Regions from separate parts of the Homo sapiens genome. Here region 2 is linked to region 1. The links come from fine-mapping of genetic effects on gene expression. A gene starts in region 1. The other region holds a variant in brackets. All regions are shown on one strand. Distances are between the middles of the regions.

Region 1 (12,575 bases):
AAGCAAAATAAGATTCCTGTTCTCAGGAACTTAAGACTTTGTAGGAAGATAAAGACAATCCATACGTGTTAGATCAATGCTGAGAAGAAAAATAAAGCTGGATAAGATAAAGAATGCGACTTTAAATGGGATGTCAGGATAGACCTGTGTGATAAGGTTATACCTGAGCAGAAACTCAAGTAAAACCAAGAAGCAAGAAGCAAGCTGTGCAGACATCTGGGGAAAGAGCAAATGCCCTGAGGTGGGAGTGTGCTCTGGTAGGATAGGAGGGAGGTCCGCACAGCCAGAGTGGTGTGGGGAGGGAGAGAAGAACAGGAAGTTAGATCAAGGAGGGAGAGGGGCTGGAGTTTGAGACTGGGAGTTAGGAGGACACATCAAGTAGGACCTTGTGGCAGTTACCAGTTATGTATAAGGATTCTATTACACATCTTATGTAAATTATCTAACCTTCAATAGCAACCTATGAGGTACGTATCATTTCCATTTGAGAGATGGAAAACAGAGTCACAGAGGTTACATGGCACTTCCAGATATTATATTGAAAGAGGTAGTACTGGGACTTAGCTCATGTTTTATATGATTTTGAAGTACTTATGAGTCATACACACACACACACACACACACACACACACACACACAGAGTCATGCATCACAAAACAACATTTCTGTCAACGATGGACCACATATAACAGTGGTCCTATACAATTATAATGGAGCTTAAAAATTCCTGTTCCTATCTCTTGCTGTACCTTTTCTATGTTTAGATACACAAGTACTTATCATTGTGTTACAATTGCTTACAGCATTCAGTATAGCTCTGCAGGTTTGTGGCCTAAGAGCAACAGGCTACACCACATAGCCTAGGTGTGTAGCAGGCTATACCATCAAGGTTTGTGGAACTATACTCTATGATGTTTGCACAACAATGAAATCACCTGACAATACACATTTCTCAGAACATATCCCCGTCATTACACTACGCATGATTGTATACACACACACACACATACACATTGATACACACAATCATTGCAGGAATAAACTAATATTTTTAAAGCCTCCTATTATGCAGGCTTATGAGTTAAATACTTTGTATGCGCGGTAAAGTAACAATTTGGTTCCTGCCCTATAGGAGCTTATGACCTATTGCAAAGACAGAGTACGCACAGAAGAAAGCAAGATTTTTGCCAAACACAAAAGGAGAAAAACAAACTTTCAAAAATATCCTATCACATTTTTCCTCATTGTAATTAGCAGATATTTGGAAATCAATAGGAAAGAAATCAGGTCTTGGGTTTTTGTAAACCGATGGAATGGATTCCAGTGAATCACTCACTTGGTGGCTGGCTGGCTCCCTCCCTTTTTTCCTTTCATAAAGAGTAGGCCCTTTAATGTGTTACACTTTTCAGTGATCCTCTGAAAATTCAGCAGTCTTAATTTAAGCCCCCATTTATGTTAAGTATATTACTTCCTTTATTTTTAGATATTTTGGCAGAGAAGGTGAAGTTATTACTTCCTTTAAGATCGTCTAGAAAGGAAAACCATATGCATGAGTACAATGGTAAGGAAAAAAGGGAATTATAATTAAAGAAATTGCTACTTGAAATTATCTTCCTACTTTTTTAGGCAAAATAGAATGTTTAAGATGAAGAAAGCATAAGATAAGCTCCTGAAGGACATTATTAAAACTCCTTTACAGCCTGCCGAAGGTGGTGAAACCCTCTCTACTAAAAATACAAAAATTGGCCGGGCGTGGTAGCAGGCACCTGCAATCCCAGTTACTCAGGAGGCTGAGGCAGAGAATTGCTTGAACCTGGGAGGTGGAGGTTGCAGTAAGCCAAGATAGTGCCACTGCACTCCAGCCTGGACGACAAAGCAAGACTCCGTCTAATAAATAAATAAATAAACAAAAACTCCTCTTAGTGCACTAGAGCCATAAATTATAAGTGGGTCATTTGAAATTCATCTCTTACGTTGCAATAAATATAAGGAGTACACTGAACCACTACACTGATTTCACTTGTAGCATAATTCTGTAGCTACTAGCAATTTAAACATCTTTATAGTGAAAATGAATAGCATATACACAAATACACAGTCCTTTATTGTTTATTTGTATATTTCTAATACCAAAAGTAGATGGGTAATTTACCACCTACCCATTATTATAACGTTGGTTTAAAATGATCAGCAAGATTTTTTTTTTTTTTTTGAGACAGAGTCCCTCTCTGTCACCCAGGCTGGAGTGCAGTGGCGTGATCTCGGCTCACTGCAAGCTCCGCCTCCTGGGTTCATGCCATTCTCCCACCTTTAGCCTCCCAAGTAGCTGGGACTACAGGTGCCCGCCACCACGCCCGGCTAATTTTTTGTATTTTTTTTTAGTAGAGACAGGGTTTCATCGTGTTAGCCAGGATGGTCTCGATCTCCTGACCTCGTGATCCACCCACCTAGGCCTCCCAAAATAAGCAAGATTGTTTTTAATTGTCAAAATTGTATTTTAAATTTGAAGATATTTCATAAGCCAGTACTAAACAAAGATGGAAGTAATTGTTGCCAGTCTTCCAAATATAATGTGAGCTATTTCAGGAACTGAATTATGGAGAATTGACTAAATAAATCAAGCTGGAATTAGATCTACTCTTGGTACAGTATTTAGTCTCTGTTGAACAGAGCAAGAATGAGGCATTTGATGGAATCTCAGAGTAAGTCCAGGTCATTTCTGGTATCCAGAACTCAGGAGTAGTTGTACTATTTCCAGCCACAATGCCTAAACATTGTTAGCGACTAATATTCTTAACTTCCTAAAATACCAGAGATTATAAATAAGATTTAAAATAAACAATTTCTGCTTAATTTTTCAAATCTTTATTATTAATAGCTAACATTTGAGTATTTACACTATGACAGGCTCTGTCTTCTCGCATTTAATTCTGATAAGCTTCTCTGCAAAATGATTATTAATAATCCTATTTTGAGGAAATTGAGGCTCTGTGAGTTAAATGTGCCCACAGTTACACAGCTGATAAATATATACTAGTGTTTCCTAGTACTTAAACATAAATATATGAAAAGTCAGCCATCAGATAAGTTGTTTAAGCATTAACCTTTCACTGGAAACTTGGATTAAGTGAAACAGCTTTAAGAGAGCCAAGAGATAAAACAAACTCTAAGAACCCTTAACCAAGCTATTTAAAAACAGTAGTCACTACTCATAAAATAAGGCAGGATATCATAAATTCTGTAATAAATACTACCACAGTACACAGGGTAAGACAGGAAAAGGAAGACATGCAAGATTCAAACTTCAATCAGACTGCCTTTTAAGAACCAATGAGACAGACTTTTGGACTAGTGATAATATAAAGATGAAACACATAAGTCATAACACTTGAGCTATAAGTAGGTTAGCACACAAATCCTAAATGACAAGGCTGAGTCACTTATTAATTACAGATCAGTAAGACAGCTGAAGAGGGCGGTGAGAGGGGATATTTGGCCTCAATGAGTAGAAAAGGCTAATCTTCACAGAAGAATTAAGAGGTAAAGAATAAATTTCCCCATATTAACTTGTGGGAAATCAGGAGGTTCTGCAGGTTGTATAACACTGCATAAAAGATTAAAGAACTAGTTAGAGCAGGAGAGTAGACACCTGTGAACCACAGGTTTCCAGAGTCCTCCAGGCATGATACAATGCAGCCCTCACAGGTCCCCTCTGTTCTCACTGACCATTAATTCCCAACCATTGCATCCTGGGATATTTCCCTTCAAGCACCACCACCCACAAACTAGCTCATGTTCATACAGATGCTTTCATACACAATGTACCCTGGACTTGACAAGTAAATGTGCCAAAACCCATACCAGGATAACCTGCTTTTTAAAATGCTGACTTCACCAGCTGAACATATATGGTTTGAAACTTATTTATCGTCATTTAAAAGCTGAAATGAATATTGGTATAGCAGATCATGGCCCAGTAAGATGACTTACTGTGATTTCTAAACAGGATTTAAGAGACCAAAAATAGACAATGAATGTTTTTTAAGTCTTGCAATCAGAATTAAGGGTTCAGCTTGTCCTCAAACCTCACTTTCATATGAGCTAAACAACCTTTTAAAATCCATCACTATCTACATCTTGATGCTTCCTTACATTTGGTCAAGCATTTTCTTTTTTTTCTTTTTTTTTTTTTGAGATGGTGTCTCACTCTGTCGCCAGGCTGGAGTGCAGTGGTGCGATCTTGGCTCACTGCAACCTCCAACTCCCTGCTTCAAGTGATTTTCCTGCCTCAGCCTCCCAAGTAGCTAGGATTACAGGCACGCGCCACCACGTGCAGCTAATTTTTTTTTGTATTTTTAGTAGAGACAGGGTTTCACCATGTTGGCCAGGATGGTCTGGAACTCCTGACCTCGTGATCCACCCACCTCGGCCTCCCAAAGTGCTGGGATTACAGGTGTGAGCCACCACACCCAGCCTGGTCAAGCATTTTCTAAAAGCATCATAACAAATGGAATCAAAGAGTTTAGAGATCAGCTGTAAAAACTCTGGATAAGAGACAATCTCTGTAAGTAGGTTTCTTTATCTACTGATAAAATAGTTGAACACAATATTTTAGGTTAGTTTCAGGTCTAAACTGCCAGGGCAGGCACAGTGGCTCATGCCTCTGACCCCAGGACTTTGGGAGGCCATGGCGGGAAGATTGCTTGAGGCCAGGAGTTCGAGGTTACAGTGGGCTAGGATCGCACCACTGCACTCCAGCCTGGGTGACAGAGTGAGATCCTGTCTTTAAATAAACTGATTATAGGAATGTAAAGACTGAAATTATATCTCCTCCATTTAGATAAGGACATTGAACACCAAATATGGCAGATCTATAGGCAAGAAAGGAAGCATATGGACAAATTTGACCCTACCAGATACAAAACCTTTTGGAAGGTTGCCTAAGGAGGCTCAGGAATAATTTGATTATCTAGCCTTCAACACATAGTCTCAAGCACTATATAAATCTAGGCTAGTTAACCTTCATTTTTCAAGCAGTCTCATCCTTATTTGCTTGAAAACAATAGCTATTTTTCAAAAGCTGCCCTTCACATGTATTTGAACTCTACCATAAAAAACGTTTACCAAAAGTAAAAGTTAAACTTCTAAGATAATATTGAACACTTATATATACGTGTAGTACCAGTAATAATCATCCTCACTTCTAAGAATTCACACTAAATAACTGAGTCATAATAATTCCCTAAAAATGTAAAGAAATTACATTTACCCAAAAATTAGGGATAATCAGCATCAACCATAATCCACCCTGTCAGCAACCCTAGTCCTACTGTGAAAACCTATGAAAACCTATTTAAAGGGAAAACAATTGTATAATCACTTCAAATAGTAAGATTATATTAAATCTTTAGAAGTAGATCAATATACACATTATAAAATTGGATCCCAATGTAAGGTAAACATACACACAGAATTAATAAAACACACTACCTCTTAATGAACATATAACAAATTTGTTTCCATTCTCGGTCTTTAGACTGGACTTAAAAAAAAAAAAAAAAAAGGAACTGAATCCAGACAGTTGATGTTTCTCCATAAAACTTTTAAGAGATGGTGAGCTAGTGCCCGATTTCTTTCAGATTTCCTAGCGGTTTACAGAGGTTTAAATTATTTAATTGCCTTACAGATTGCCTCAATATAATACAATTGGTTAGTCAATATTTGTTAGTTGTTAATTATTGCTAACTACTAAAAAACTTACTTTTTTTTCTTTTTTGAGACAGAGTCTCACTTTGTCATCCAGGTTGGAATGCAGTGGTGTGATCTCGGCTCACTGCAACCTCTGCCTCCTGGGTTCAAGCGATTCTCCTGCCTCAACCTCCTGAGTAGCTGGGATTACAGGTGTGCGCCACTACACCCAGACAATTTTTGGATTTTTAGTAGAAATGGGGTTTTGTCGCATTGGCCAGGCTGGTCTCAAACTCCTGGCCTCAAATGATCCACCTGCCTCAACCTCCCAAAGTGCTGGCATTACAGGTGTGAGCCACTACACCCCGTTCATAAAAAAAATTTTTAAAGGAAGGTTAACCCAGTGGTTCTCAGTGGGTGATTATACCCCCAACAGGACATGTCTGGAGACATTTTTGATTGTCACAATGAGTGTGGGTATTGCTGGCATCCAGTGGGTAGAGGGATGCTACTAAACATCTTACAATGCACAGACAGCACCCACAACAAAGAAAACGTCAGTAGTGCCAAGGTTAAGAAACCTTGGGTTGACTGAATACTGTTCAGACATGGAAACTTGAGTTAACGCAGCAGACACAGTGCTAGGTGCTGTGACTACAAAGAGTTAGACCAGTGTGGACTCTGCAGTCCCAGGGACCTGAGTTCCGTTGTTGGGTCCATCATTTACTAATAACACGATCTTGGGCAAACTGCCTAACTTTTCTGTTGCAAAACAGAGCTAACTCCACTTCTCTCACTCATTGCGAGGATCATGAGACAATATGTTAATGTGTCTCGCAAAATGTCCAGAAATTAACAGATGTATCACTAAAAACAAAAGGAGCAAACTGTCACAGTCTAGAAGAGTAGATTCATTACATGACAACTGAATGTAATATAATATCTTGGATGGGATCCTGGAAGAGAACATTAGGCAAACACCAAGGGAATCTAAGTGTGGACTTCAGTTAATAATTATATGTATCAATATTGGTTCATTAATTATGACAAATGGACCATACTATTTAGTGAATCTAAAATTTTATTTTAAAAGTAGAAAGAAAAGGGAGGTATCTTTCTTCCTCTTCCTTCCTCTGAACTCAGAGGACACAGTCCCCAACCTTAGGAGTTTACCTTTTATTTACTCCTACTACCTGGATGATAATGTCAAGTTCTGAATAGTATTCAATCACATAAAGGCCAACAGGAGATGAGAAGACAAGATGTGACACATACCAGAGGATTTAACTTTTCATCAGAAAATAACACATCTATAAATCCTAGACCATTTAGGATTTAAGAGAATTTTAAGAAAGATTTTTTCAAAAGAGGTTTTAAAATATTACTCACACAAAGAATTGTCAAGACAACAAAGAAAAAGGACATTTGTTGGATAGTAACCAAAACCTCATGAAAATATTAATAGATAAATGTAAAGAGAATTGTGTTTATGGTGTTAAAACTTGACAGTTGTGACTGAGTGGAAAAATTTTCTATACTATGATCCCAAGATTACAACACTTTTACTGGATATTGGTTCTGGTAGTCCAAAGTTTATTTTCCTGCTAGTTGGCATTAGAGGCGTCATGCTGAAGACTGCGATTGCCTCTGAAAAGAAGGCTGCAGGTAGGTAAAAGAAGTCTACCAACAAGAAAAATTTACAATATCTACGAGAATTATCAGCAAAAGCAGACATTGGTCTCTGCTTTAATTCACATACATTAATGAGACAGCATATGGGAAGTACTTTGAGCTCCCTGGAAAAGTGATACCAGGCAAACTCAAAGAATTAGGTTACAGTATAAAGGGATAACAGGATAACAGACTACTTTCTTGTTTGTCGTATTAAAAGACAAGTGTTTTTGACATACTGGCTGAAGACTGGCATATAGATCTCATTTCTTGTACATAAATCAGGTCCCTGGTCATTACAGCCCCTTTAAGGTAAGTGAGAGTTACTAATCGGTGGAGAAACAAAAGTACAAAGCTGCCTGCCAGAGCACACAGAAAGAGAATGGCAAAGAACCAATAACCGTGTGCTCCCACTACCTTGCTCACTGGAACTATGACAAGGCAACTAAAGGGTGAAAGAAAGGCTAACAAATGTTACCAGGTCGGGATTCCAGCGGTAGCAAGCAAAACGAGTGAGAACAACAGCGGGCCCCTCTCCGTCCACTGCAGCTAGTGTGCCGAGGACAGTGTTCCTTTGATTCCTGATAACCAGCACTTCAACTCTTCCCTTAGAGAGTTATCTACTTAATTTCTGAATACATACTTCCTTACACCATCTAAGAACCTGTTCACAAATGCCCAAAGCTCCAGAATTGGTATTTCAGCTATTAGAGAAAACAGGGTACCATGTTTTTATTTTAAGCAGGTGACATTTGGGAATTTCCTTCACTGAGTAAGTGGGCCCAAAAGATTTCTCAAGACTGTTTTCAATGTCATTTGGTTTTAAATTCCCAAATGTCTTAGCATTTGTCTTCTCTTCACAACATAAATCAAGGAGACATTCTCAATGTGGCCACTATGTGCTTACCTGAATCCTTTACATGGAAGCAGACTAAGGTCAATATTATGATTTTTCTTAGAAAAGGACAAGTGAAAAATGGTTCTCTACCATAATCTGTCGTTAGCATTTTGAAGATTAAAATGAGCATTAGTGAGTAAGTCAAACACAAGAGTGGGGCCACTGAGAAGCACCCATTTGACCCAGAGGAAGGAATCACAGTTTCACTGGTTGGTGTTTTTACAAATGAAAGGCTTTTGTCAGAAAGGGAACTAATTCCTACGACATCCCAGACTGGAGCTCCAGAAAGGGGAAAAAGTTGTAACTTAACCAAAAGAAAAAAGCCAAGGGTTATCTGAGTATCTTAACAGTTATCTGAGTCACCCCTATTAACTGGGTTGTAGATCTGCTATAACCAGCATTTTAGAAGTGATATCCGATTCTCTTCATGTGTTTGAACATTTAAAGAAACCAGAATCCTAAATCAACTGCCCCCAAAAGACACGATTAGGCCCGTGGCAGAATTTGCCAACTTCCCTCCTAATTTCATGTAACTGTTTTTTTAGCCAAAAACTTCTATTCACTAAAATACTGCTTATACATAAAGTGTTAATAAATACCTTTTATGCCAAATTCCTGCCAGTAGAACTCACATAAACCTCTCATCCCTCCCAGGAAGAGTCTGGGGAGACAAGCTGACTCTTGACTCCTAGCAGTCTGGAGAACAAAGTGGGCAAGGGAGGAGCTCGGCCCCTGGCCATACTGTGTCGTCAAGGTTTGTGGTTGAGACAGGGGGCAAAGAACTACACAAATTCCAGATACCACACTTGTCACCGGTAGCACCGCGGAGCATATCCCGGAGCTCCCCGGCGCGTGCCTGGCACGTTAGCGGGCGCACAGACCAACGCGCGGTCAAGTTGAGAGTCTGGGTAGAAAGAAAAAAGCTGGGCTGTGCGGGCGGGCTCTGCCGCTTGCAGCCCACCAGCCAGAGAGGAACTCGATCCGCCCGCTCGGCGGGGGCGTTGGCCAAGTGGTCGCAGCTGTGCTGTGCTCGCCCAGCCGGCCGTTGACAGGCGCAGGCGGCCGAACGCCCCACGCCGCCCGCCCCGCGCCGGGACCCAGCCCGCGCACCCCAGCCCGCCCCGCGCCATCCCAGGCGGCAGTCCTCGGCACCTACCCGGAGGCCTGTGCGCGGGGCTGTGGAGAGCCGAGAGGTTCAGCGCAGCAGCCTTCTCCTGCACGGTGGCCATGGCCCTTGCTCCCCGGACGCCAACTCCTCCAGCAGCTTCACAGCTCCCTAGCTCCCTGAGCGCCCGTCTGTTAACTGTGCGGGGCGTGGCTCCCTGCAGGCCCCGCCCCCGCTGCCGGTCACGTGTCTCTCTGGCAACCACTGAACGTAGCCCGCGGCGCCAGCGATCCAAGTTTCCTCGGGCGCGATGCCACGCGAGCGGTGGTCGGGGACAAAGCGGTTCCCTGGGCCGGCACTACGCGGCCCGCGGCTCACACCAGCGGGATTCGAACCGCGGCCTGCCGTAGATTAACTCGGGACCAGGCCGGGCGCGGTGGCTCACGCCTGTAATCCCAGCACTTTGGGAGGCCAGGGCAGGTAGAGCACCTGAGGTCAGGAGTTCGAGAGCAGCCTGGCCTACATGGCGAAACCCCTTCTCTACTAAAAATACAAAAATTAGCTGGGCTTGGTGACAGGCGCCTGTAATCCCAGCTACTCGGGAGGCCGAGGCACAAGAATCGCTTGAACTCAGGAGGCGGAGGTTGCAGTGAGCCGAGATCCACCACTGCACTCCAGCCTGGGCGACACAGCGAGACTCCGTCTCAAAAAAAAAAAAAAAAAAAAAAGAAATAGAAAAAGTCGGGAACCTGGCAAGCTGCCTAACTGCTCTGTGCGTCGGTGTCCTCACCTGTGATGCGGGGGTAGGTTTAGTACCTGCTTCACTGAGATGTTTGTTTGTTTTTTAACGAGGTTTATAGGAACCAATTCAGGTTCAGCATTTAGTAACTGCGTCCGGAACGTAAGTGCTTAAAATTATGTCATAGTAGTAGTAGTAATAGTGATAATAACAATAATAATCGAGTTTTTCAGACATCCCTACCTGTGCAGAACAAACAAATCCTATGTGGCCCAGGAGAGCAATGTCTAGAGGTCACAGGAGGGCAGCAACGAAAGACCCTGGGACTGGCTGCCAGGAAATCTGTGCTGCCTCCAAAGGAACTGTGGGTCGGGTGGGTAGGGACAGTTTGCTGCCGGTTGGAGTGAAGGTGAGGAGAGAAAAGGAGGAAGGGCTATTAATGGGACACATCTTAGTTACTTGGAAGTTGAAGCCAGGCCAGGGATCCAATGCTGGATACCTCTGAAAGGATGAGTGGTCTTAGAGACCAATAATCCAATTGCCAGACACTTGCCCTTTTTTTTTTCTTTTTTTTCAAGTTTGGGAATTTTGCAATGATTTTCAAAACGATTATGACGTCTTCTTAGAAGGAGGATGCTTGTGTGATTTAGGTGTAAATTAGAATGGTGTTTAAGTGGGAGTTCATTATTTAGCTTATTGGAAAGAGCTTCTACATGGGATTGTTTCAGAGAATACATACTAAGAAGCTGCCCCTGGGGACTTGGGTTTGTGGGTGGGAGGTGGGGGCCAGTTGCTGCTGCTTAGTGTTAGAAAAAGCTGGCCAGGCACGGTGGCTCACGCCTGTAGTCCCAGCACTTTGGGGGGCCCGAGGCAGGGGGATCTTCGAGGTCAGGAGTTCGAGAACAGCCTGGCCAAGATGGCGAAACCCCTACTAAAAATACAAAAACTGTCCGAGTGTGGTGGCAGGCACCTGTAATCCCAGCTACTTGGGAAGCTGAGGCAGGAGAATCGCTTGAATCCAGGAGGCGGAAGTTGCAATGAGCGAAGATTGTGCCACTGCACTCCAGCCTGGATGACAGAGTGAGACTCCATCTCAAAAAAGAAAAAAAAAGGTTGCCAACCAGTTGGCAACCTTTTTTTAATGTGACCTCTTCCCCTGATGGTAGTAAAACCCTGCTTTACTTCTGTTTAAGGATTTTCTTTGTAATCTCTCAATTGGCTGCTACACACAGAAAGAGGATGCATTCAGGGCTGGTTTCAGGCACCCAGTATACCAATGAACTTTATCCCGTGCTGTATAACTGAATGAACACACAAGTCCTCCCTCACTGCATGGGAGGGGGGAAAAGCTCATCTGTCTCAGAAGACAAATCTTGAAAAACACTAATATTTGAAAAAGCTTGGTGACCTCAGTGACCATTTTGATACTTTATATAACATTTCAGAGAGTTTTTCACCAGGTTATGCAATAATTGTTTACCTCTTCTGGAATGCTGAAATGTTCATCTCTACTCAGATACTTTCTACAACCATGGGATAGGAAATGCCTATCCCTTTTCCCACTTTCTTCCCTGGACAGATTTTTCCAGGTTACCCGGGTGTGTTTTTTTTCTCTGAGCACCTGTGGCACTTATCAAATGCATTACTATTCATCTCCTGCTTGTATTGATACTCTCTGATTATTACAGCACACACATATCTTTTTTTATTATAATTTAAGTTCTAGGGTACATGTGCACAACATGCTGGTTTGTTACATATGTATACATGTGCCATGTTGGTGTGCTGCACTCATTAACTCGTCATTTACATTAGGTATATCTCCTAATGCTATCCCTCCCTGCTCCACCGACCCCACGACAGGCCCCAGTGTGTGATGTTCCCCTTCCTGTGTCCAAGTGTTCTCATTGTTCAATTCCCACCTATGAGTGAGAACCTGTGGTGTTTGGTTTTTTGTCCTTGCGATAGTTTGCTGAGAATGATGGTTTCCAGCTTCATCCATGTCCCTACAAAGGACATGAACTCATCCTTTTTTTATGGCTGCATAGTATTCCATGGTGTATATGTGCCACATTTTCTTAATCCATTCTATCATTGATGGATATTTGGGTTGGTTCCAAATCTTTGCTATTGTGAATAGTGCTGCAGTGAACATACGTGTGCATGTGTCTTTATAGCAGCATGATTTATAATCCTTTGGGTATATACTCAGTAATGGAATGGCTGGGTCAAATGGTATTTCTAGTTCTAGATCCTTGAGGAATTGCCACACTGTCTTCCACAATGGTTGAACTAGTTTACAGTCCCACCAACAGTGTAAAAGTGTTCCTGTTTCTCCACATCCTCTCCAGCATCTGTTGTTTCCTGACTTTTTAATGATCGCCATTCTAACGGGAGCACACACATATCTTAATTGCCTAAGAAAATTGGAAAATTGCCGGGTGTGGTGGCTCATGCTTGTAATCCCAGCACTT
Region 2 (12,575 bases), 31 kb before region 1:
AAAATTAGCTGGGTGTGGTGGTGCATGCTTTATAGTCCCAGCTACTTAGGAGGCTGAGGCAGGAGAATTGCTTGAACCTAGGAGATGGAGGCTGCAGTGAGCTGAGACTGCACCACTGCACTCCAGCCTAGGCAACTGAGCAAGATTCCGTCTCAAAAAACAACAATGGCTGGCGCAGTGGCTCACACCTGTAGTCCCAGCACTTTGGGAGGCTGAGGCAGATAGATAACAAGGTCAGGAGTTTGAGACCAGCCTGACCAACAAGGTGAAACCCTGTCTCTACTACAAATACAAAAATTAGCTGGGCATGGTGGCGCACGCCTATAATCCCAGCTACTCAGGAGGCTAAGTCAAGAGAATCACTTGAACCTGGGAAGCAGAGGTTGCAGTGAGCCAAGATCATGCCACTGTACTCCAGCTTGGGCGACAGAGCGACACTCCATCTCAAAAAACAACAACAACAACAATAAAAATGTCTTTCTGTCTTGAGCACAAAACAAGCAATTCTTCACTATTAAATGCAAAAAAGTACCATCTTTGCAGATATAAGAAATCTCTGTGAAGTCATATTTAGAAGCTTCTTGTGGGAGACACTTGCCAGCACAGCAGCCATTCCTCCTCCTTTTGTTAACAGAATCCCAGTGTTTTTCAGGGCAACAATATACTCTGCCTGTGACAATAAATCATGACTAATCTAATAAGCCCATCACAGCAGTTCATTCCCTTTTAGCCAACTTAAGCTCTCCAGGTTCACTTATAGCAAGGGTAGCATGTGACTAAATTCTGATTAACAAAATATTAGCAGATGTCTGTTTCATGACTCCAGGGGAAGATGTTCCTCTCCAACAAAAGGAGAGCCCTAGTCCTCCCAAACTTTTTGCTCTTGCCAGGAAGGCTGATGTATTATGGGATGCTTGGAGCTGCAGCATTCATCCTGCAACCATGAGGACAGGCTAAGAGACTCTCAGGCACCATCCAGAATCCTGACTTTGGTGAGCTGCTGACAGAAAGGCACTTGCACGCATATTTCCTTGATTCTAAAACAAACTCCCCCCTCCCCAATATTTTAATCTCTCAGAAACTTGGATCTTTCTTAAAATCAATGGCATTTTTATAATTATAATGGGCAGTGTTTCCTCTTTCTTATGACAGCACATTTTTAAAAGGTGCACCTTACAACCAATAGAGTTTTTGATTCAATAAAAAAATGGTTAAGTGCCAGGCACTAGGGACACAGAGAATAACCCACAGTCTTCGCCTTTGCGATGAAACCAACAACTATAGTGCAGTGTGATAGTTTCAAAGAAGTGAATGAAACAAGGCAATGAAAACACAAGATGAGGCAGCTAGATCCTACTGAGTAGGCAGACTTTCACAAAAGATTTTTAGAGCTTTTATTTGATTTTTAGGTTGTTCCTTGTTCAGGAATATTTTTTAGCAATAATGTACAAAAGGAAAAATACGTTTGAATATATTGGTATCAACTGAAGGAAACATTTTCAAAACTGGGAAATGACAGTGTTCTACTAAGCAAGATAATTTAGCAACCACCTTACCTGTTTTCTGGTAATTCAACTGGTTTAATCTGAAAGTCTCCATTTACTACAATTTCATGGGCTAGAGCCATGTTGGTGACACCTCTCGCTGTCTCTAGAAGTTCTTCTACTGTCACAAAGCGAGGAGGACTAGCTGTAACAGAAACTCACTGTAAGAGATTTGCTTCCCTGGATCTGAATTTCTACTAAAATAAGAAAACAGTGGTTCTGGTACCAGACAATAATTTCAGTTATTGCGTCTATTAAAATGTTTGTTCTGGCATTTTCAAACAGCAACAGAATGTTACTTCATATTCATTTTTTACCCTTGAATCCTAAAAGCAGAGATCATTTATTAATACTCAAAACATCTGGTTTTTACTAAGACTGGTCAAAGGAAAATAATTACAGTAAACTGAAACCTAGGAAAACTTAAGTTACAGATGATCATCTGTCCCATAAGCTGAGGGTTTATTTTCTAGTCTTTCTGCCTCCTGTCTACCCTAAAAGAAAAAAAAAAAAAAGAAGACACCAGATTTAAGATCTTCTCTTTTGCTCCCATTAGCAGTTTACTTTTGCACTACCACTAACACTGCCACAAATGAATCTCCCCAAATTAAAATAGCATCAAGGCTAGGCACAGTGGTTCACACCTGTAATGCTAGCACTTTGGGAGGCCGAGGCGAGAGATCATTTGAGGCCAGGGGTTGGAGACCAGCCTGGGCACCATAGTGAGATCTTGTCTCTACAGAAAAATGTAAAAACTAACCGGGCATGGTGGTGCATGCCTGTAGTCCCAGCTACTCAGGAGGTTGAGGCTGGAGGATCGCTTGAACCTGCAGTGAGCTATGATCATGTCACTGCACTCAAGCCTGGGTAACAGAGCAAGACTCTGTCTCAAAAAAATAAAAATAAAAAGTTGTAAAAAATTAAAATACCATCAAGTCCTTTAGGGTGCCGATGGTGCTGTTTAAACAATGCTAAAACCACTATCTTGTACAGGATACTGTGACAGAATATGATAGCTCTGCAGTGGTCAATGGACAGATCAAAAGATGTGTGACACAAGAATTTTCTAGAATGCTGATCCAGTGAATCAAAAACTTTGAAAAAGAGTCATCTCTGATTTCTCTCTTTCCCCTGCTCTGTTATCCAAGTCCTGTAGATTTTACTTCTGTATCGACTGCTGCAACGGCCTCAAAATTTGTGTCCATACTTCTCTTTTGATAAAGCTTGAGACTGATCATTCAGAAAGAAGGTTCTAAACCAAGGAACAAAGGGGAATTCTTACTCTTAAAAGCCTATGATAAGGCAAGGCTCACACCTGTAATCCCAGCACTTTGGGAGATCAAGGCAGGTGGACCACCTGAGGTCAGGAGTTGGAGACCCACGTGGCCAACATGGTGAAACCTTGTCTCTACTAAAAATACAAAAATTAGCAGGGCGTGGTGGTGCATGCCTGTAATCCCAGCTCCTTGGGAGGCTGAGGCGAAAGGATTGCTTGAACCTGGGAGGTAGAGGTTGCAGTGAGCGAAGATCACACCATTGCACTCCAGCCTGGGCGACAGAGGAAGATTGTCTCAAAAAAAAAAAAAAAAAAAAGTCTCTGATAGCAATTCTCAAACTTTAGCCTATCATGGAGTCAGAGGGAGGACTTGTGAAAACAGATTGCTGAGCCCACCTCTCAGGGTTTCTGATTTAGCAGCTCTGGAGCAGGGCCAAAGAATCTGCATTTTTTATTTTTCTATTTTTTTTTGAGATAGGGTCTTACTCTGTCACCAACAGGAGTACAGTTGCACAATCATGGCTCACCCCAGCCTCAACCTCTCAGGCTCAAATCATCTTCCCACCTTAGCCTCCCAAGTAGCCAGGACTACAGGCACATGCCACCATGTCTGGTTATTTTTTCTATTTTTTTAAAGACAAGTTTCGCCATGTTGCCCAGGCTGGTCTC[G/A]AACTCCTGAGCTTAAGTAAGTGATCCGCCTGCCTCAGCCTCCCAAAATGCTGGGATTACAGGTGTGAGCCACAGCAGCCGGCCCAGAATCTGTATTTCTAACAAGTCTCCAGTTGATGCTGATGGCTCCAAACACCACAGTTTGAGAAGTACTGGCCTAGAAGATGAATATATTAATTTTATGTGATAGTGATAAGATCTGGCCTTAAAATTAGATAAGTAATGTCACTGGTTTGCCCAGGTTTAAAAGATCTTCTTACATTGGTGAAAAGTTATTTTCTTTCCTTTTTCTTTTGCGCACCAAAAAAAAGAAAAAAAAAAAAGGAACCAAATCGAAGAGCTGGTCATATCCTGCCTGGTAAAAAACTTTATTTGGTCACAAGGGGAAGTTGGGAAAACTCAGAATTCTTCCTCACAACATTCTCAGCATTTCCAAAGAATATGAATAAGAATACAGAATAAATAAATCTGGCTTTGTTGATATTGCTAAAATATAGTAAATATCCAAAATCAAAGCCCAATATATCTTTTCAATTAAAAAAATTTTTTTTAACTTTTAAGTTCAGGTGTACATGTGCAGGTTTGTTATACAGGTAATCTCGTGTCACGGGGGCTTGTTGTAGAGATTATTTTGTCACCCGGTTATTAAGTCTAGTACTCATTATTTTTCTTGATCCTCTCCCTCCTCCCACTCTCCAGTAGACCCCAGTGTCTCTTATTCCCCTCTATGGGTATATTATTAAGATGTCAATTTTCCCCAAATCAATCTATTGGTTAAATGAAATCCCAATCAGAAGGCTTTTTTGTTGAAACTGACAAACTAATTCTAAAATGTATAGGGAAACACAAAAGACCTCGAAAAGCCAAAACTATTTTGAAAAAGAAAAATAAAGCTAGAGGACTGACACTGATTTCAAGACTTATTATAAAACTATAACAAGACAGTGTATTTTTCCCATAAGGATATATAGAAATTCAGGGCAGAAAATCCAGAAATAGACTAATATACACACACATATATATATAGGTGGTCAACAGACAAGGATAGGCCGGGCACGGTGGCTCATGTACTTTGGGAGGCTGAAGCAGGTGGACTGCTTGAGGCCAGGAGTTCGAGACCAGCCTGGACAACACAGCGAAATCCTGTCTCTACTAAAAATCATTTAAGCCCAGGAGACAGAGGTTGCAGTGAGCTGAGATTGTGCCACTGCCCTCCAGTCTGGGTGACAGAGCAATACTCTGTCTCAAAAAAAGAAAAGCAAGGATAGTTTTGTTTGTTTGTTTGTTTTTAATCAAATGGTGCTACAACAATTAAGTATCTATATGTAAAAGAATTACTCTATCACGCCTGTAATCCCAGCACTTTGGGAGGCTGAGGCGAGCGGACCACAAGGTCGGGAGAACAAGACCATCCTGGCTAACACGGTGAAACCCCATCTCTACTAAAAATACAAAAAATTAGCCGGGCGTGATGGCAGGTGTCTGTAGTCCCAGCTACTTGGGAGGCTGAGGCAAGAGAATGGCGTGAACCCGGGAGGCCAAGCTTGCAGTGAGCTGAGATTGCACCACTGCACTCCAGCCTGGGCGACAGAGCGAGACTCCGTCTCAAAAAAAATTAATAATAATTACTCTAGATCCTTCTCTCAAATGATAAACAAAAATGAACTCAAAATGGATTGCAGAGCGGGGCATGGTGGCTCATGCCTGTAATCCCAGCCCTTTGGGAGGCCAAGGTGCAAAAATTGCTTGAGGCCAGGAATTTGAGAACAGCCTGGGCAACATGGCGAAACCCCATCTCTACAAAAAATACAATTAGCCAGGTGTGGTGGCATGCTCCTGTAGTCTCAGCTACTCAGGAGGCTGAGACGGGAAGATGGCTTAAGCCCAGGAGGCAGAAGTTGCAGTGAGCCATGACCCCGCCACAGCACTCCAGCATAGGTGACAGATAGAGACCTTGTCTAAAAAAAAAAAAGAATCACAGATAGAAATCTTTGCGATCTTGGATTAGGCAAAGATTTCTTAGATAGGATACAAAAAACTCAAACTACAAAATAAAAAATGGATAATTTGGATTTTATCAAAATTTAAAATGTACATTCCATGATAGACTCTATTAAGAAAATAAAAAGGTTTTTTTGTTATTTGTTTTTTGAAATAGGGTCTTATTCTGTTGCCCAAACTGGAGAGTGGTGATCACAGTTCACTGTGGCCTCAACCTCCCAAATAGCTGGGACTATAGGTGCACACCCAGTTCAGTAGGGATCTCCTGTATATATACATATGTATAAATATATGCTTATTTTTAAATTATTTCTGTTATCAGTTATCAGAAAATGAAACTTCCACTGTGGGTACATCAATATCAAGCATCAGGTGTTATTATCAAGCATCAGGTGTTATTATCAAGCATCAGGTGTTATTAAACTCCACCAAGGTCTTACCCCTTAAGAAGAAACTCAGAGATTATTAGGGCTCCCAAGTTTTTTAACCTTGCTTTTGCAAAAAATTGTGGGGAAAAGAGAGATCAGACTGCTACTGTGTCTATGTAGAAAGAAGTAGACATAAGAGACTCCATTTTGTTCTGTACTAAGAAAAATTCTTCTGCCTTGAGATGTTGTTAATCTGTAACCCTTGTCCCAACCCTGTGCTCACAGCAGAGACCTGTGCTGTGTTGACTCAAGGTTTAATGGATTTAGGGCTATGCAGGATGTGCTTTGTTAAAAAAGTGCTTGAAGGCAGTATGCTTGTTAAAAGTCATCACCATTCTCTAACCTCAAGTACCCAGGGACACAATACACTGCGGAAGGCCCTCCAGCAGGGGCCTCTGCCTAGGAAAGCCAGGTATTGTCCAAGGTTTCTCCCCATGCAATAGCCTGAGATATGGCCTCCTGGGAAGGGAAAGACCTGATCATCCCCCAGCCCAACACCTGTAAAGGGTCTGTGCTGAGGAGGATTAGTAAAAGAGGAAGGCCTCTTTGCAGTTGAGATAAGAGGAAGGCATCTGTCTCCTGCTCATCCCTGGGCAATAGAATGTCTTGGTGTAAAACCCAATTGTATGTTCTATTTACTAAGATAGGAGAAAACTGCCTTAGGGCTGGAGGTGAGGTGCTAGCGGCAATACTGCTCTTTAATGCACCCAGAAGTTTGTATCCGTGCACATCAAGGCACAGTACCTTTCCTTAAACTTATTTATGACACAGAGACCTTTGTTCACAGGTTTCCTGCTGACCCTCTCCCCACTATTACACTATTGTCCTGCCACAACCCCCTCTCCAAGATGGTAGAGATAATGATCAATAAATACTGAGGGAACTCAGAGACAGGGTGCAGGTCCCCTGGGCCCACTTTTCTTTCTCTATACTTTGTCTCTGTGTCTTATTTCTTTTCTCAGTCTCTCGTCCCACATGACGAGAAACACCCACAGGTTGTGGAGGGGCAGGCCACCCCTTCAAAAATAATCAATGTCTTACCATCTGAAATTTATGAAAACAACAGAAATACATCACATCAAGTCCTCTGGGTGAATTTTTTTTTTTTTTTTTTTGAGACGGAGTCTTGCTCTGTCACGAGGCTGGAGTGCAGTGGCGCGATCTCGGCTCACTGCAACCTCCGCCTCCCGGGTTCAAGTGATTCTCCTGCCTCAGCCTCCCAAGTAGCTGGGACTACAGGCGTGTGCCACCACACCCAGCTAATTTATGTATTTTTAGTAGAGACAGGGTTTCACCATGTTGGCCAGGATGGTCTTGATCTCTTGACCTCATGATCCACCTGCCTTGGCCTCCCAAAGTGCTGGGATTATAGGCATGAGCCACCGCGCCTGGCCGGATTTGTTATTTCCCAATAATTTTAGTCATCTGGGTAATAATAGGCACCGTTACTATGCTGCCTAGTCATGAAACACAGTGGCTGGAGCAAATCAGGAAGGAATTTCACTTCCTCTGGACTCTGTTGAGTACGGCCTTGAACAAGTCACTTAAATCTTGCAGGGTCAGTGTTTCTCCATATGCAAAAAGAAGAGACTTAAGGGTGTGCTATGAAATATAAGAATCCTCCGAATTTTAAACAAGTGCATTCTCAGTGTTTTGGGCATACTTGGAAAAAAACAGCTTGCACCAAGTACTAAGAACCTCACCATTAGGAAGAAGAAAATTTTCAGGAACTGTCCAAGTTAAGAGACTACTTAAAATCAAACTTATCAATGACAGGTATCTGATCATGATAGATAAAAGCTACAGTTCTAAGATATGATCAGGACATGTTACCGATGTACATACAGAGGAATTATTCACTGCATACAAATTATAGGGTTGTGGGGATTTTGTTTTGTGAGAGTTCTCAAATTTACCAATTTCATAAATGAAAACTTGGTAAGGATTGCATAAAATTGCATAAAGATGCAATTTGGTGGACAACACGTCTTCACCTCAATTTGTTAAGAGAACCTGGGTTGTAATAAGAGCCATGAAAAATGGTAAGGTCAACTCAGACATGGTGGTGCACACTTGTAGTCTCAGCTACTAGGGAGGTTGAGGTGGGTGAATCACTTGAGCCCAGGAGTTCAAGGCCAGCCTGGGCAACATAGAGTGATCCGGTCTTAAAAAAAAAAAATGTAAAGATACATGTAACTTACCCTGGAGTTTATCTTACGTGATACAAAGCTAAAGTTGTTGCTAAATTTTGTTATTTTGTTACAGCATTTGCGCACTGATGCCCTGTTAGAGAAACTGAAAACCATATTAGGTTAAACATGACTTTAGAGAGGCTGGCAGACAGATTCCAAAATAAAATGAAGTTCTAATTTAGAATGGTTGTACTCTCTATCTTTACTAAGGTGTCCTGAGATGCCTATACACTCTGAAAAGATGCTGTTAGTTACATAAGTGGACGGACATTTATGGAGGGCAAGATTGCAACTGTCACCCAAACAGCTACTATAGAATGAGCACAGTAAAACCAGGGTACAGATTACCCATAGTACTTATTATGTTGTTGGAAACTGCTTGTTAATTTGTCTTCCTGGTCGCTAGCCTGCAAGCTCCATGAGGACAGAGACAATATGTGCCTGGTTCACTGCTGGATCCCTGACATACAGTATGCACTCAATAAATATTTGACTGACTGAATACAGAGACACCATAATTCAAAGTCTAGTCATGAGCTTTAGAAATGTAAGTTCTCGTGTCATCTATTCATCTAAAGATGACTGGGATCTACTAATTAAATTCACAAGGACCTGATCCAATAAACAAAGGTCCTAAGTGGGAGATATTAACTGGAATAACAATTGATGTTTGTCATCTGAATATAGCATCTTTTACTGGTCAACTAGGTGATTAAACGTTAGAACAGAGGGTATTTTGTGAGAAGAGCATTAAAGTATAAGTAGTAGAAGATTTTAGAGAAAACATTGTTAAGTTACAGTTGACTGATCCTTACTCTGTTTAAAGAACAGATAATCTTTTACAATCAAATCACCACCTCAAATCAGTACCAATAAATTTTTTACAAGCCAGCCATTTTTCCTTTTTCAATATTCTGCATCGGTTACATCAGAATTCTACTCTTTTTTTTTTTTTCTTGAGATGAAGTTTCGCTCTTGTCCCCTAGGCTGGAGTGCAATGGCACAATCTCGGTTCACTGCAACCTCTGCTTCCCAGGTTCAAGTGATTCTCTTGCCTCAGCCTCCCAATTACAGGCACACACCACCACTCCCGGCTAATTTTTGTATTTTTAGTAGAAACAGTGTTTCACCATGTTGGCCAGGTTGGTCTCGAACTCCTGACCTCACCTCAGGTGATTCACCTGCCTCAGCCTCCCAAAGTGCTTATAGGCATGAGCCAATGCGCCTGGCCTAGCAACTCCACTCTTAAAGTATTACTCTGTGTTATAATTTAAAACAATAAATGTTCTCTTTTTGCTACTTACGTTTTAATTTGTAGAATTCCAAATATGATTTTAGAGTTACTTTAAACTCAGTAGCTACAAATTTACAGAGTTTGGGGGAAATGTCTGTAAACTGTTAATTCCATATTTTGTAAATCCTTATTTATGCTCTATGTGTTCAATAATGCTTCCTTACCTGATGCCCAGATAATGAGGTCTTAGCTTTATCTTTTGGGTTTATAGCCCTGTACCTACCTAGCACTACAGGAGAAATAGGAAGGCAGCCAAAAGGAATACCTTAGGGCATTGATTTTAAACCTTATTTTGGTACAGACTACTAAGAGAACTTAATGAAAGCTTCCACGACCTTATTCCTAAAAACATGCATATACAAACAAATGTTGATATACTTTTTTGGTTATTACTAGATCCCCTAAATCTTGATCATAGGTCCCAGGATAAGTATTCTTGCCTTAAGGGCATAACTACACACAATTTCAGATAATGTAGCTTAGTACTGGTTTGACATTAATTTGGAATCATGCCATCAGGCTGACAAGATGCCAAAGGCGAAGCCATCAACCAAAGAATGGCTGAACCTATAAAAGTTAAAATTGTTTAAAAAAATTAAAACCAATCAACCAACTGTTGGGAGAAGCTAAAGCAGGGCTTGCATGTCTCACTTAATGTAAAAGAGTCTTGGAACATGTCCAGGGTCCAGGGTCTAAAACCCCTCATGGCCTTGGGAACACCAAGCTCTGTGCTAAAGGGCAGAAGGCTGCCCTGCAGCACCATAATCTAAGCCCAGGGCATAAAACCCTTCGTGGCTTGAATGGAATCCAGGGCTCAGGGCGTGGCCTCTGGAATGTGTCTAGACTTGCTGGCTCCTTGCTTCTAGCACTCCTAGGCTCATAGATCTATTGTATCTTAAACTAGAACATGTTTCCCATTATCTCAAGTAGCAGAACATGTTCCATATGCTGCAAAGAAAATGCTAAACCGTCACAGCTGTAGATCATGTGCTTGATACACTGCTTTCTTTCAACCCCCACATCCTCACCACCTGCTTCTTTGTTTCATCACCAATGAATAGTGCAGGCTTCCAGAGCTCGGGGCCTTCGCAGCCTCCATACTAGCATTGGCCCCCGGACCCACTTTATGCACTCTTAAACTTGTCTTTTTCATTCTTTTGACTCCACTGGACTTCGTCACCTCCACGTTGGGTCTGGCCATCCCAACAACCAACCAACCAATAAAGGGTGACTGAAGACCTAAACCAAAAGTTCTTCTTTAGCAGAAACTATAGGTTGTAAAGCTATCATGTTAGCCATATACATCTACATTACAGCAATCAATCCTGGCCTCTTTATTTTTTTTATTTTTATTTTTTTGAGAGAGGCTTGTCTCACTCTGTCATCCAGGCTGGAGTGCGGTGACACAATCACGGCTCACTGCAGCCTTGACTTCCCCAGCTCAAGTGATCCTCCTGTCCCCGCCTCCCAAGTAGCTGGGACTACAACCACGTGCATGCTCAGCTAATTTTTTTTTTTTTTTTTTGAGACAGGGTCTTACTTTGTCACCCAGACGGGAGTGCAGTGGCGTGATCTCGGCTCACTGCAGCCTCCACCTCCCAGGCTCAAGTGATCCTCCTGCCTTAGCCCCACAAGTAGCTGGGACTATAGGCATGCACCACCATGCCTGGCTAATTTTTATTTTTTGTAGAGATGGGGTCTCATTATGTTGCCTAGGCTGGTCTTGAACTCCTGGACTCAAGTGATCTTCCTGCCTCAGCCGCCCAAAGTGCTGGTATTACAGGTATGAGCCACCATGCCTGGCCAATCCTGGCATCTTTAAATGCAATAGATGACATAATGTTAGTAGCAATAGTAGTAACAACAACTAATGTTTATTAAGCATTTATTACCTGTGAAGCACTGTTCTAAGTGCCTTATAGGAATTCATTTAATCTTTACTGCTACCCCAAGAAATATTGTATTTTCCTCATTTTAAAGACAGGAAAACAGAAGCTTTCTAACTACACATATTGGAGTCAGGCCTGACAAATGCATGATAGACTGTGCTAGCAACAACATGTTTCCTTGGACACAATTTGACCTAATAGTTGATTTATTAAAATCTATGTGATAATAAATCAGAATAAAATAGGGTCCATTAATGTTTGCTAGAAGAATAGTATGTTGACTAATAAATTGCCCGGGAAGGGCTTTGATCATTTTAGAAGAAACACACCCCAAAACCCAAAAATGTCTGTACTTTTTCCAAATACGTACAACTACTGATCATCTACAATTTAAAGGGATAACATCAATACCGACATTCTTAGACTATGACATTCCCTCTTAAAAACTTGCATTTTTGGACTCACTTCAAAATGCTTAAGGTACTCTTCATAAAAGACGTGAGTTGAGGCAACCACTGGGAATGCCTGAAGATATTGCCACCCTTTCATTTAAGAGGCTTGCTCCTTGCCAGGGATCTGAAATGACTTCACCACACACATTTAGCAAACTGAATCCCCTCAAGCTTGTGGGAACTAAGCCCCCAGGCAGAGAATTAGGGTGTGGTGAACTTACTCACATTTTTTTTTAACCTGCACAAGCACAGTCCTGGCTGGAATTAGCCTCAGACTTTTCAAACACTCTTTCAATACAAGCTGCAATTTATACTCCACCCTCCTATTTCTCAGAGCACTTCAGAGACTGGAGTGTCACTGAGGCTGGAGAAAGACAGGAACGTTCTGGACATTATTCTAAATTGTTAATTTCCCATGCAATTGAAAATCCACAAGTAGCTAGGCTGCCAGCTGAGGAACTGCTATTATTCCTAAATGCTACATTGGCAATGTTATATTATTAGAACCTAGCTCACGGCCACATGCACAAGGAGGCCTCATAAAACCGTCACCTGAAAACAATGACAATATTGCATCTAACCAAAGTCAAATTTGCTTACAGTGAGGTCTCTGCACTCTTTGGGGGCTGGAGGAGTCTGACTTTATTGCTTTTTGTAAGGCTTCATCAGCACCTTCCACAGCATCTTCGAGGCCTTCCTCAGAATCATTGGATTTTGATTTTCCTGCTTCATTTACATTGGACTTGTCAAGGTTTTCAGACATTCTCAATTAAGTTTATTCACTTTCCTAGGAAAGAAAAAAACAAAAAAAAAGAACTAAAAGTATTCTA

Evidence for each region. PIP is the estimated chance that this variant, and not a neighbour inherited with it, causes the effect. A credible set is the group of variants that fine-mapping cannot tell apart.
Region 2: its variant is the best candidate, but not a certain one, in a credible set for the expression of DEPDC7 in whole blood (TOPMed, PIP 0.73).

The regions. Positions count from the first base shown.
Region 1 is chr11:33,012,867-33,025,441 of GRCh38, reverse strand. It overlaps DEPDC7 (DEP domain containing 7), which reads right to left and starts at 9,564. Exons shown (of 9, transcript NM_001077242.2): 1 at 9,414-9,564. The coding sequence starts at 9,486. It overlaps LOC105376615 (a long non-coding RNA gene), which reads left to right and starts at 9,652. Exons shown (of 4, transcript XR_931167.2): 1 at 9,652-10,165. RefSeq lists silencers at 9,290-9,349, 9,670-9,719.
Region 2 is chr11:33,043,707-33,056,281 of GRCh38, reverse strand. It overlaps TCP11L1 (t-complex 11 like 1), which reads right to left. Exons shown (of 10, transcript NM_018393.4): 2 at 12,346-12,532; 3 at 1,557-1,689. The coding sequence starts at 12,508. Among named protein-coding and RNA genes, the nearest start is that of TCP11L1, 10 kb to the right of the region's middle. RefSeq lists an enhancer at 5,921-6,421. The variant G/A (reference allele first, on the strand shown) is at 3,490.